2 separate regions of the Homo sapiens genome follow, and region 1 is linked to region 2. The links come from fine-mapping of genetic effects on gene expression. A gene starts in region 2. The other region holds a variant in brackets. All regions are shown on one strand. Distances are from middle to middle.

Region 1 (4,257 bases), 120 kb before region 2:
AAGGTTTTTAGCTTCCTTGCGTTGGGTTCAAATGTGCTCCTTTAGCTCAGAGAAGTTTGTTATTACCAACCTTCTGAAGCCTGCTTCTGTCAACTCGTCAAAGTCATTCTCCATCCAGCTTTGTTCCGTTGCTGGCAAGGAGCTGCAATCCTTTGGAGGAGAAGAGGCATTCTGGTTTTTAGAATTTTCAGCTTTTCTGCTCTGGTTTCTCTCCACCTTTGGTCTTTGATGTTGGTGACCTACAGTTGGGGTTTTGGTGTAGATGTCCTTTTTGCTGATGTTGATGCTATTCCTTTCTGTTTGTTAGTTTTCCTTCTAACAGGTCCCTCAGCTGCAGGTCTGTTGGAGTTTGCTGGAGGTCCACTCCAGACCCTGTTTGCCTGGGTATCACCAGTGGAGGCTGCAGAACAGCAAATATTGCAGAACAGCAAATATTGCTGCCTGATCCTTCCTCTGGGAGCTTTGTCCCAGAGTGCTACCCACCTATATGAAGTATCAGTCAGCCCCTACTGGGAGGTGTCTCCCAATTAGGCTACATGGGGGTTTGGGACCCACTTGAGGAGGCAGTGTGTCTGTTCTCAGAGGTGAAATGTCATGCTGGGAGAACCGCTGCTCTCTCCAGAGCTGTCAGACAGGGATGTTTAAGTCTGCAGAAGTTATCTGCTACCTTTTGTTCAGCTATGCCCTGTCCATAGAAATGGAGTCTATAGAGGCAGTAGGCCTTGTTGAGCTGCTGTAGCCTCCACCCCATTTGAGCTTCCCAGCCGCTTTACCTACTGAAGCCTCAGCAATGGTGGATGCCCCTCTCCTAGCCAGGCTGCCACCTTGCAATTTGATCTCAGACTGCTGTGCTAACAGTGAACAAGGCTCTGTGGGCACGGGACCTGCCAAGCCAGGCACGGGAGAGAATCTCCTTCTCTGCCAGTTGCTAAGATCTTGGAAAAAGTGCAGTATTTGGGTGGGAGTGTCCTGTTTTTCCAGGTACAGTCTGTCATGGCTTCCCTTGACTAGGAAAGGGAAATCACCTCACCCTTGTGCTTCCTAGGTGAGGCGACACCCCACCCAGTTCAGAGCCATTTTAAACAATGAAATCACCAATGAAAAGCACAGAAACGTGAAAAACAGCGCACTACATAAACTGCAAAAAGTAAAAAAAAACCTAACTAACTTAACAATGTGAGAGCTGGGAATATGTGTGTCCAGTATTTTTCACCACCCTGCCAGTGTCCATGAAAGCAAAAGCGAAAGCTCCTGTAAGTACTGACTTTTGGGTTACAAATTTTATCATGTAGATTATTTTATAAACACAATCTGCAAATAATGGGGATCGACTGTATGTGTCAGAAGATTGGAGAGTACCTGGGACTGAGCTTCTGTAGACCTGATTCTGGGTTTCAAATCTGCTGCTTGTTAGCTATGTAATTGGGTAAGTCATAACATTTATAGGCCTCAAAATCCCTCTGAGTCCAGAAATAAGGGTATGCATGATATTATACCTGGTTTTCAGGGCATTTACCACCTTTTTTAAAATAGAAAATTGAGAGTACAAAAACACTAAACTTCAAATTTCTAAACAAAAATTTGATTTTGCTACAATTCACACTTATGCCCTCCCTATTCATATCTGCCAAGAAATTTTCCCAAATTTGGGAAGATTTAAATATGCATATTTAAAAATTATTATGGCCCACCTAGATAAGATATAGTAACAGGGACCAGAGTTACCATTCCACCAAAAACAACTAAAAGAACAAAAAATATGTGAAACCATGGGTTTAAAGATTTATATATTAGGCAATGGACAGTGATTTCTGAAAGAAGGAAAGCAAATGAGGTAAATTTTATAATTGCCTCAGCTTACCACCCAAAGCAAATATCCAGGTATCAGTTGCAGGGAGCAGGAGCTCAGACAGAGCCCAGTGATGTCCCTGAGTTGAGGTGATGGAGCACAGGAGTAAGGCAAAGTTAAGAAACTAGAGTTTACAGAGCAGAGTCCCAGAGAGAGCTGCAAAGAGAATGCACACTAAAGAGATTTATAGAGGGGTCTCTTAAGGCTTTAGCTGAGTACTGATCAGTGTATTTATATGAAGGAACTACTCAAGGCTGGGGAAAGAACCACCTAAAAAGATTAGAGAACACAGCGCTCACAAAGAGCCAGGAATCATTCCTGGTCCCTAGAGCTAAAAATCTCATAATTCATGTGCTACCAGGTAGAATACATAGAAGGCTTCACCTCACAAGTTTGAAAACATTAGCCCTAGAATAAATGCTGCCCTGGCCCTATCTAAGAAAATTTAAAAGCAACACATGAAAGCATCAAACTTTTTCCAAATGATCTAACTGTATTTCACAATAAAGTTCAAGAATATTTATGGGAATACAAAATATTCAGCATCTAAATGTCTGGCATTTAATAAAAAATTGCCAGACATTCAGTAAAAGAGAAAAATATGACCTATGAGAGAAAAGATCAATTGACGCCTACCCAGAAATTATACATATTACATAAATAGT[G/T]GGAAAAGACATGAAAACAGTTATAATTATATTCTATATGTTCAAGAAGCTACAAGACTGAGAAGTGTAGATAGATACAGAACATTTTAAAAACCCAAGTTAATTTATAGAAGAAAACTACAAAGTTTGATATAAAAATAGACTAGGTTGGATGAATGGCTATAATATAGCCATTGAATATAGCAGGAAAAAACAGTAAACTTGAAGATATAGAAATAAAGCTATCCAAAAAGAAATAGAAAAAAAATAAGCTTTGAGACAACTTCAAGTGGCCTAATACATGTGTAATCGAATTCCTGAAAGCCAAGAAAGATAGTGGAGAGAAAAACATTTTTGATAAGACAATGGCTAATATTTTTTCCATGTTAGATGAAAACTCCAAATCCTCAGATCCAAGATGATCATCAAACTTCAGGAATAAGAAAAATGAATAAAATGCCATCAAGGCAATATGAACATCAAATTACTTAAAAGTAATAAGAGAATATCTTAAAAGCACCCAGAGAAAAAAGAATACAAACATTCAATGGAACAAGGAAGAACCATAGTGGGCAGGGCACCCCCGGTGGCTCATGCCTATAATCCCAGCACTTTGGGAGGCTGGGGCAGGCAGATTACTTGAAGCCAGGAGTTTGAGACCAGTCTGGCCAACATGGAAAAACCCTGTCTCTACTAAAAATACAAAAAGTAGCTGGGCATCATGGTGTGCACCTGTAATCCCAGCTACTAGGGAGACTGAGGCACAAGAATCATTTGAACCTGGGAGGCTGAGATTGTGCCACTGCACTCCAGCCTGGGCAACAGAGTAAGACTGTCTCCAAAAAATAAAAAATAAATAAAAAAAAAGGGGGGGTGGTGAAATACCTTCAAAGTACTGAAAGAAAAAATGTCTAAATAAATTTAAAAGTATTCTAGTCATGTTTTCTGGTTATGATGTAATTAAATTAGAAGTTAGAAAGGTATAAGGTATAGGAAATATTCCCAGAATATTTGGAAACTAAATAACACACTTCTAAATAACACATAATCACAAAAGAAATCTAAAGGGAAAACACAATGTATCAAATTTTGTGGGCCTGGCATGGTGGTTCACACCTGTAATCCCAGCATTTTGGGAGGCTGAGGTGGGAGGCTCACTTGAACCCAGGAGTTTGAGACAAGCCAGAGCAACATAGTGTGACCCCCATCTCTACAAAAAATTTAAAAATAAAAAATTAGCCAAGTGTGGTAGCTCATACGTGTAGTCCCAGCTACTTGGGAGGCTGAAGCAGGAGGATCGTCTGAGCCCAGGAATTCAAGGCTGCAGTAAGCCATGATCACACCACTGCACTGCAGCCTGGGTGACTGAGGCCCTGTCTATTAAAAAAAAAATGCAGCTAATGTGACACCTAAGATAAATTTATAGCTCTAAATGCCTGTTTAACAAAAAGATCTCAAATTAATGGCATCAGCTTCCACCTTAATGAAAACAGAACACGAACAAAAACACAGTGTAGGAAGAATAAAGGAAACAATAAAGATCTAGCCAGTGAAATATAAAACAAAAACAGAAAAAAAATCAATGAAACCAAAAGCTGGTTCTTTGAAAATATCAATAAAACTTCTAGCCAGATTATCAGGAAAAAAGATAATTTGCCAATATCAGAATGAGGTGATATCACTACATATTCTACAGATATTAATAAAATATGAACTATATCAATACATTAGATTAATGAAATAGATGAATTATTTGAAAGGTAC
Region 2 (4,257 bases):
CGCTGTCCATGCTGTCATGCACACCTGCAAAGATGTTGGCCAGAGTGGACTTGCCCACCCCCTGCTCCCCTATGAGCACCACTCGGTAGTAGGTGTTCCCTGACTCAGAGGAGATGACTGAGTCTGTGGAGTCAGAGGACCAGCTTCGGCGGCAGTGGTCCTCAGGGGTAGCAGAATGGCGGTTGCGGTGGCTGTACTGGTGGGGCTCTTTCTGGACCATCAGATGCCTGCCATCAGCTGGGATGCTCCAGCGCTGCTGCTGTGGCTGCATGCCCACAGTGCCCTGGCGCATGGTGACATTATTCAGAGTCATCGTTGAGTCCTGGGGAGCAAAGCAGCCAAGATGGCAGCATTAGTAAGCATGAGTGAGAGCTCCGCTCAAATACATGGTCAGTCATCAGTAATATTTTATTAGATGAGATGAGAAGCAAGTATCCCTAACATAAAGACCACCAATTAAACAGTCCCCCAAACCCCAACAAGACAGGCTTTCAACTGGACACACACATGCTGCCCACACTGTCAGTAACCAGCTCCTCAGGCAGACTATCATTTGCATGGGAAAACAAATACGGTTAACATCACCCACTGCCCATGGGCTTCCCCCTTCCTCAAAGCAGACTTGGATGAAAGAAGAGCTGCACTCAGAGCTGGCACAAAGGCAGCTGGAAAGAACCAGCAGACTCCAAAGATGGCTTGAAAAGCAACAAGTTAATGTTGCTGGGGACCAGCTGGTCAGGTTAGCTGCTCTTGTCTAAACTTGGCTCTTAATTGCACCAGTGTCCAGCAGGTTTTGTGCCTCAGTGGGAAACACGTGGCAATGACATCACCCTCCCCTCCCCTGCCCACTGCAACCCTGGCTGGACTGGACAGGCACTTATTGGAACTTCCATGTTTAGTAAAGTTGCCTTGATGCTCTCCAGCTGCCTGGAGAGCATCCACCTGCCATTATTGGGGGTAGGGGGGAAATTTTCTGTTTAAAGTTTATGCCTCAGCTGTGCCCTCTTACCCACAGATACCACTTTTAAAACATCCCGGCTCCAAACCTAGACACCCTGGCAGAGAAATGACCTGCTCATGTTCAGACCTATGAAATTTGCAGAGAAAGTGCCTCATTCTTAAAAAACCACATCCATTCTCAAGAGTTCTTTAATTCAACTCAGATTCCTTTTTTGAGTCAGGGTCTTGCTCTGTCACCCAGGCTGGAGTGCAGTGGCACGATCATAGCTCACTGTAGCTAGCCTCCAACTGCCAGGCTCAAGAGATCCTCCACTTCAGCCTCCCAAGTAGCTGGGACTACAGACCTGCACTACCACGTCCACTAGTTTTTTTATTTTTATTTTTATTTTTTGGTAGAGACAGTGGCCTCACTATGTTGCCCAGGCTGGTCTCGAACTCCTGGGGTCAAGTGATCCTCCTGCCTCGGCTTCCGAAAGTGCTGAGATCACAGGCCTGAGCCACCATTCTCAGATCCCCTTCTTGAAGCAAATCAGAAGGCTGAAGACTCCCCTAAATGATATTCAACAACTTCTCTACAACTTTCCCTTTGCAGACTGCCTCCCCTAGCCGGGAGGTCTGTTTTTCCGGCTACTGGTGATAAAGTATAAGTACTTACGTTGCAATCAGCAAGATGCACAAACACTCCTCTCCCACCCTCACCCCCACACTCCGTACCCCAACATCTCGCCACTAACCAGGACGACCAGCCGGTTTTTTAGTCTCAAAAGCAGCACCTCAGTTGGCAGACTTACATTCAAACAACAAATACATAAAGCATCATTAAGGGCTGCCCTCTCTGACCACTCGATCTGTAGAGGGAGGTGACCCTTCTACCGAATTGAACTAAGGAACCTGCTGATGAGAAGCGACATCCTTTGCACTTGAAGCTCTGACCCCTACCAGAAAATCCCAGTGCTGAGCGCACGTTCCAGGGGTTCTTTTCTCAACTTCGAAAGTTCTGCGGGCTGGGAAACTCCCACTCTCTCCCTTCTCCGTCTCGGGCCGTCCCCCTTACTTGGCTCGGCCGGATCGGCGTCGGGGCGTCAGCGTATCGCGTGGGTCCGCGCTGGGATACCCGGGCCAACGAGCGGGGAGTGCTGCGCTGTGCCCGCCGTCCTTGCCCGCCGCCTGCAGCCGCCGCGGCCGGGCGGTTTATAACCAGCCCAGCCGACCCGCCGCGGGGCTTTTCCGTGACGTCAGCGCCCCCGCCGGGAGGGGGCGGCTCTGCAGCAAACTCGGAGTTGCAGCCACTTGGCTAAATCAGTTACTCGCAGTCATGTGACCCCTTCTCTCTCCATTTAAAAAATAATGACAGTTCAATCCTGGGCCTCCTTTATTTTGTTTTATTTTCTTTTTACCAGATGAACACAGGAAAATGGAAAAATACACTAAGTGACACTTAATCGTCCTTCCCAGCAAAGCACTTGCGAGCTGTCGGGATAAAGGATGGAAGGGAGAGGCAGGTTTGAGTTGAGAACTCAGTTTTGCCAAGAAAACAGAGATCAACCTGGAATGCGCAGAGACTTTAGCCTCCAGGATGAGACTGCAGCCACCTTGAATAGCCAAGGCTTGTTTTAACCACATCTTCTGCAACGAAGACAGCCTTGTCACCTTCTTCTGGATAGGGGGAAGCAGATGGAGCCCCACAAGGCTTTGTTTCCCTTCTCTGGCAAGGACCCAGAGAGAAGGGGCCAGAAAGAGGTGAGGAAAGAGGACAAGACCTTGAAAAGGGCAGTTTGGAAAAACAATTTAATTGAGGATCCAAGCAGATTGTGCTAAATATTGCTGGCCCTCCTGCTCTGGGCCAGAATGCTGAGGCTCCTCAATCAGGGAATTTAATCAGCATCCCAATCAGCAGCATCTCTGTACCAGGCTCCCTGGCAAGGCTACGCCTTGGGCATGAGCCAATACAGCCTGGCCATGGGGAGGAGCACTGAGACCAACACCCCTGTAAGAGACTCCTGTGAACAAAGGGCACAGGATAATAACTACTACTACCATTTATTAAGTACCTCTGAGGACCTCTGCTTAGTAGGTACTGTTAGGCCTCCTGGGACCTTAATCCTTACTATACTTCTGCAAGGTGGCTCTATTTCTACCCTCATTGTATGGAGGAGGAAGATAACATAGGGCCAGAGAATTTGCCCAAGGTCACACCGCTGGTATAAGTGGCAGGGTCAGGACTCAAAGCCTGGTTTTCCTGAGTCTCTGCACTGCACCACCAAGTGAAGGATTTCAATGACCTCTTTCTGGGGACATGGGTATTTCCCAGATGCTGTGTTTAGAGATGATGCTGGCCTCTCCAACATATCTGCTTTTCCAGCCAGCTTCAACTCTGGGTTGGCTGGTGGCTCCGGGAAGCAGCCAAAGGCACCAGCATCTATTGAAGCAGCTGGACTCTGCTGTGATTAGAGTCAATTCACAGTTATCCTGCAGGCATTTATCTGCTTTGAGAATTAGCTACATGACCAGCTGCTGAGACCTGCCAGGTCCCAAGCTAGCAAAGGTGGAATCCATAGAGTAATGAAAACTTAGAATTCCTTTAGTCTCAGGTGTTGTGGCCCCAATCTCCTACTTATCTTATACATAAGAAACCTGAGACCCAGAGAGGAGATGACCGCTTAGGACATGACAGAACTGGAACTACAACCTGGGGATCATAATTCTCTGGATGCCCTTTGCTTCTGTCAAGTTTTTCTTCTGGGTTTCGCTGACAGGAAGTGGCTACAGATGTGGGGAAAGGAAAAGGAGAGGAGATGGGGGGTGGGGGAGATCATCTCCAAGAGTATATCACTGACTCCATTCTAAAACACATGTAATTGATGAATAATCCATGTTTCAAAATGATCCATGCTTTTTCCATACTGACACTCCTACTCTGTCAACTGGTCTCAACAGAAACATCATAGGAGTAAAAACTAAGAAGAAATCAGTTTATAAGCATATGATATAGTTCCTCAGTTCTACTTTTGCCGATTGATAAGAATCTAATACTTCACATTTATAAAAACCTAATTCTGGCCAGGCACAGTGGCTCACGCCTGTAATCCTAGCACTTTGGGAGGCTGAGGTGGGTGGATCACGAGGTCAGGAGTTCAAGACCAGCCTGGCCAACGTAATGAAACCCTGTCTCTACTAAAAATACAAAAAAATAGCCGGGCATGGTGGTGGATGCCTGTAATCCCAGCTACTCAGGAGGCTGAGGCGGGAGAATCGCTTGAACCTGGGAGGCAGAGGTTGCAGTGAGCCGAGATCGTG

Alleles and levels. Positions count from the first base shown, and alleles are read on the strand shown. Sizes are in standard deviations (SD) of each study's normalised expression.
For the expression in tibial artery of the gene that starts at base 2,129 in region 2, G is the high allele of the variant in region 1 and T is the other (small effect, 0.21 SD a copy in GTEx).

Evidence for each region. PIP is the estimated chance that this variant, and not a neighbour inherited with it, causes the effect. A credible set is the group of variants that fine-mapping cannot tell apart.
Region 1: its variant is the best candidate, but not a certain one, in a credible set for the expression of GEM in tibial artery (GTEx, PIP 0.51).

What each region holds. Positions count from the first base shown.
Region 1 is chr8:94,136,553-94,140,809 of GRCh38, forward strand. All of the region lies in intron 15 of CDH17 (cadherin 17), which reads right to left. Among named protein-coding and RNA genes, the nearest start is that of CDH17, 70 kb to the right of the region's middle. The variant G/T (reference allele first, on the strand shown) is at 2,515.
Region 2 is chr8:94,260,191-94,264,447 of GRCh38, forward strand. It overlaps GEM (GTP binding protein overexpressed in skeletal muscle), which reads right to left and starts at 2,129. Exons shown (of 5, transcript NM_005261.4): 1 at 1,900-2,129; 2 at 1-322. The coding sequence starts at 313. RefSeq lists silencers at 86-229, 1,371-1,440.